Regions from separate parts of the Homo sapiens genome. Here region 1 is linked to region 2. A link means that fine-mapping ties the variant in region 2 to the expression of a gene that starts in the linked region. Tissue or cell type: uterus. Region 2 holds a variant in brackets; the other region holds the start of a gene. All regions are shown on one strand. Distances are from middle to middle.

Region 1 (2,684 bases), 610 kb after region 2:
TAGGAAATTCTCTTTAACCTAATTCTTTCCTAATTTCTAGGGCTTCTTACCTAATCTAACGTGCATAATTATTTTCAGGTGACTCCGGGTCCATCAGTTTGACACCGAGAGCGTTCCTACGGTTACGTCCTCACCCCTGAACAAAACCCAGCTTCCTGAGCTTCTAACGGCGAATTTAACTTGTATGTTAATACAGAAGAAAGGTTACAAAACCTATCGAAATGGTTTTTTGTTTTACCAAACATATTACAACTCAAGTCAAAAGTTCACAGCCCCAGCAACTCGCGTACGAATCTGAAGCAGGTCCAGACCATTAAAGTCACAGCCCCAGACTAGAAAACGGCCGGTGGGTGGGGGGAGGGGAGAGGGCGCGTCCCGAAGATGTCCACCCGCAGCACCGCGCAGGCTGACGCCTCCCCTCCTCTCGGGCTGGAGGTGAGAGCGCCCTTCCTCCTACCACGTCCCTACCTTCCCGGCCTCGGATTACGCCACAGCTGGCAAAAGGACTTTTTCATGAGAAAACAGACAAGTCAACCAGCGCGCCGCACACTCGACCTCCCAGGCTCGCACGGGCGGCCGCCCGGGCTCTCAGCCCGACACAGCGCTCCAGGGGCTGACAAGGAGGCCGCGGGGTCACGCTCCCTGGGGCAACGGCCCGAGGGTCTCGCGGAATCCCGGTGCAGAAGTCTGGACCCTCCGAGCAGCCTCCGCGCCCCCTCCGGCTCGGCTCCGAGCCTGCAGACGGCGCCCCCGGGGCTAACTCAGCGCGAGAAGAGGAAGCGACGCAGCGAGTAACAGGCTGTATGGACGGACAGCGGACTGAAGGGGGGTGTGTGTGTGTCTGCCTGCCAACAAGGCCGTCTCACCTTCCCGCTGCCGAGCCGGGCAGCTCCAGCTCACCTGAGGAGGGCTCCAGGACGCCACTGCGGCCGCCGTGATGGCCGTAACGGCACGAGGCCTGCGCTCCGCCGCCGCCGCGTAGCTCTTGGGAGAGAGGCGGGGCACGCGCGGTGGGCAGGCGGATCCGCGCGGGCAGGAAACCCACTCTGGACCCAATCTGATAGGTTCAGTCGCCCCCTTCCCCGGTCCCTGACGCGACAACGGTCTCTGCCGCACTGGGATTGGGCGGGCCCTCATGTCAATCAAGCGCCGTGCCTGATGTGGAGGGAGCGGAGGCTGCGCGGCGGAGAGTAGAGAGCTAGAGGGTGAGAAGCGCTGGGCCGGACCAGAACTGTCTTAGCTTTTCCCTCTGCGGCTGCTCTGGTTGGTTACTTTGAGCCTGCCTCCTCAGCGCCGCAGGAGAGACTTAACAGCAAAAATGACTGTGTCCTGAGTTCAGCCCCCACTGCTCTGGGAGCTTCCCCCTGGTTTCTGCACCTGAAGAATGTCATCCCAGCCGAAGGTTCTTAGGAGCGGGGAGCGACAAAGAAAAACAAAGAAAAGCAGACCTGAAAATTGGGACCTGGGAGAAATGTAAGACATGTGCTTAATTTGAGGCACAGACCAAAAGAAGCTGAGTCTGAGGGCCCTCTAAAAGTGTCCTCGTGCTTGGGCAGCTTACATTCTTGGCGGCAGTAGTGTTATGAAGAGGACCTTCGGAGCCAGGTCTGTCCATTCTTAGGGCTCCAGCCACTGGCTGAGGCATCAGTAAGTTGGTTCTTCCCCTCGCCGGTGCTGCAGGCCCCCTTCCCCGCCCCCGCGCCGTAACCTGCCTCTTTTTTTTTTTTTTTTGAAACGAGTTTCGCTCTGTCGCCAGGGTGGAGTGCAGTGGCACGATCTCGGCTCACTGCAACCTCCGCCTCCGGGTTCAAGCTATTCTCCTGCCTCAGCCTCCCGAGTAGCTGGGATTACAGGCATGTACCACCACGCCCAGCTAATGTTTTTGTATTTTTAGCAGTGACGGGGTTTCACCAGGATGGTCTCGATCTCTTGACCTCGTGATTCGCCAGCCTCGGCCTCCCAAAGTGCTGGGATTACAGGCGTGAGCCACCACGCCCAGCCGCCTCATCTCTTCTTAACCATCTTTGTGGCACAGTTTAGGATCGCTCCTCAGGGAAGCTTGCTCAGTTAGGTACCTTCCTTGGAGCACAGGTGTTTTCTCCATCCGAGCTATTGAAATGGTTTGCCTGTATGTCTACCTAGATTGTAAACTCCGTTGAATCAGTAACCATGTCTGTTCAGTTTCTCCCTAGGGCCTTGCAGTAGGGTAGATGGTCAGTAAATACTGTTTAAGGCATTAATACTTTTTATTTTAATCCTGGCCCTGGATATCAGCCTCAAAAGTTTGCAGTTTTCTGCATTTAACTTCAAAATTATTTACGTGATTGGTAATGCATGCATGTGGTTGGCCTGTGCTGTAATTTAGATGTTTGTTCCCCTAAACCTCCTGTTGAAATTTGATCCCCAATGTTGGAGGTGGGGACTAATGGGCAGTGTTGGGTCATGGAGGTGGTTCCTTCAGGAATAGATTAATGTCCTCCCTGGGGAGAGGGTAAATGAGTTCTCTTTATTTCCACCAGAGCTGGTTAAAAAGAACGTCGCACTTCCTTTCTTCTTTTGCGTCCTCTCTGGCCATGTAATCTCTGCACACACCAGCTCTCCTTTGCCTTCTGGCATGAGTAGAAGCAGTCTTAGGCTACCATCAGATGCAGATGCTCAGTCTTGAACTTTTCCAGACATCAGAA
Region 2 (2,684 bases):
TAAATAACTGGAAAATCTGGAAGCATATGGTCTTTTTTCTATTCTTGAGAAAGTGGAGTAAAGCAGGTCAATCAATTATAACAAGGGTCAATAAACTTTTTCTTTTAAGGACTGGATAGTAAATATTTTGAGCTTGCTGGTCACATGGTTTCTATCACAACTACTCAACTGTGCTGCTCTGGTATGAAAGCAGCCAGAGAAAATATGCAAACAAGTGAGTGTTCAAAACATTTTATTTATAGACTCTGAAACATGAATTTCATAAAATTTTCATGTCACAAAATATTTTTCATTTGATTTTGTCCAAACAATTTAAACATCTAAAAACCACCCATAGCTCAAAAAACATACAAAAATAAGGAATTGACCAGCTTTGGCCTGTAGGTCATAGTTTGCCCAACCCCTGAGTTCCCCCTAGGAGGTCTCAAAGGGCAAGGGGCTGGAACTAGGGACTGGCCATGTAAGACTCTATTTTTGACCACATTTCCACGTGGCTAGCTTAAGCTTCTTAGCAGTGCAGTGGCATTGGGGGCAGTTGAGCTTCTTTCATGTTGGCTCAGGGCTCCAGGAGGAAGGAAGCAAAAACTGACAGTCCTTTTAAAAGTTGGGCCTAGGACTGAAAGTGCATCACTTCCACCCTGTTCTATGGGCTGAAGCAGACACAGGCAAGCCCAGATTCAAGAGGCCTGCACAAGGGTCTCCTCTTGATTGGAGCAGTGTCAAAGAACTTGCTGCGAATTTTATTTTAATTTAATAAGTTGTTAGACAATACATTCTTTTTAATTTTAATTTTAATTTTTACTTTATTTATTTATTTATTTGAGATGGGAGTCTTGCTCTTGTCACCTAGGCTGGAGTGCAATGGTGCAATCTCAGCTCACTGCAACCTCTGCCTCCAGGTTCAAGTGATTCTCCTGCCTCAGCCTCCCGAGTAGCTGGGATTAAAGGTGCCCACCATCACCTTTGGCTAATTGTTTTTGTATATTTTTAGTAGAGACAGGGTTTCACCATGGTGGCCAGGCTGGTTTCCAACTCCTGACCTCAGGTGATCTGCCCGCTTCAGCCTCCCAAAGTGTTGGGATTACAGGCGTGAGCCACTGCACCCAGCCAATAATATATTATTCTCTCATTCAAGAAATCTAAAGGTAGATAAGTCCTGAATTGGTTAATTCAGAAGCATAAGGATTCAGGCTCTAAGTCA[CTTAGTGCTGTCAT/T]CACTACTGGGGTCATGAGGTCAAGGGCCAAGAAGTTTGCAGTAGCTGCAAGCATCACTGCCTTACCAGAGGCTCTGAAACTTCAATGTGTATCAGAATAACCTAGAAGACTTGTTAAAACGCAGTAGTTGGTTCCACCTGCAGAGCTCATGACTGAGTAGGTCTGGTGGGGGGTGAGGGTTAACTGAGGATTTAGTTTTTTCCAGTTATCGCGGCTAAGATTTATCACAGGAAGAGGATGTAAAGCAAAAAAGGAAAAGGCACATGGAGCAAAGCCTAGAGAAAACCAGGCATAAGCTTCCAAGAGTTCTTTCCCAGTGGCGTCACACAGGATGCATTTAATTTCTCCAGCAATCAGCTGTGACAACACATGTAAAATGTTATCTACTAGGGAAGCTCATTAGAGACTCAGTGACCAAGATTTTCACTAGGGGCTAGTCACATAGGCATCCTCTGCCTAGCATATACCAAAATGTCAGACTCCCAGAAGGAAAGTAGGTGTTCAGCATAAATGGCATTGTTTGTACATTTTAGGCACAGTGGGTCGCTCTGATTAGAGGGTGAAATCTAGATACCAAACAGTGCTAACTTCTCAAGTAGGGCCTTCTAAGGAAATTAGTCTCAGGCCTGCTATGTTAACTTTTGAGAATTTGCATTTTTAGCAAGTACCCAAGTGGTTCTCAAAGTGGGGACCACGCTTTGAGAAGGATTGGTTTAACATAAACTGCCAAGCAGGAAGCAGGCAAGTGTGGGACAGGGGATTTTTCACTGTGGGCTTTCACTTTTTATAGGGGAGGGAAATCCTTCTTGAAATCCCCTAGTTTTCTCTTTATGTTTCTCTTTATGTTTCTTTGTCTAGAACACGTTCACATGCCCGCCTGAAAGCTGACGATTGGCTTAAACAATAACAATTCATCTCCTGAAGCTGGACTAATGCCAGTCCAACCAAAGTTAGGTTTATGTCACAGCATCCATAGATAGGGCTTCTATTTCCAGAGCTTGGCCAAGTAAGTCCTCTCTCTTCCACCGCACAACCTGTGAGGTAAACAAAAGCAGGGATCTTTCTGTTGAGAGCCCTTTCCAGTGTCAGTTGGTGATCTTTTGAGATGTGGCAAAAGCATTCTTCCCCTAATTCATTGCTCCATGGAGTCAGCCAACCTTGCTCTACTACTTAGGGTGGAAGGTGAGATCATATATGAACCGTATGAGCAATTTGATCAGCCTTTGCTTAATACTTTGTCTAATAGGATCTGATTTAATGATAGAGCTCTTTAGGCTTTATCATTCTCCAAAAAGCTTTCTGTGAACACATAGGTGCGTTTAAGTATTTGATCTCTCCAAATACTAAAACTGGGATGAGTCCAGTTCAAGAACCTTAGATTCCAAATTAAGAGAGTAATCAAAAATAATTAATCAAGAATTATCTCATCTTGTTATTTATCTTTCTTCAACAGGTTTCAAGTGCTTCAC

The links. PIP is the estimated chance that this variant, and not a neighbour inherited with it, causes the effect.
Region 1: it holds the start of NCK1-DT, and the variant in region 2 is fine-mapped to the expression of NCK1-DT in uterus (GTEx, PIP 0.99).

What each region holds. Positions count from the first base shown.
Region 1 is chr3:136,860,536-136,863,219 of GRCh38, reverse strand. It overlaps NCK1-DT (NCK1 divergent transcript), which reads left to right and starts at 1,157. Exons shown (of 3, transcript NR_110177.1): 1 at 1,157-1,473. It overlaps NCK1 (NCK adaptor protein 1), which reads right to left and starts at 1,012. Exons shown (of 4, transcript NM_001291999.2): 1 at 867-1,012. RefSeq lists enhancers at 144-263, 274-353, 1,414-1,473, 2,034-2,083 and a silencer at 994-1,053.
Region 2 is chr3:137,470,607-137,473,290 of GRCh38, reverse strand. No RefSeq gene overlaps it. Among named protein-coding and RNA genes, the nearest start is that of SOX14, 290 kb to the left of the region's middle. RefSeq lists an enhancer at 2,247-2,306. The variant CTTAGTGCTGTCAT/T (reference allele first, on the strand shown) is at 1,202.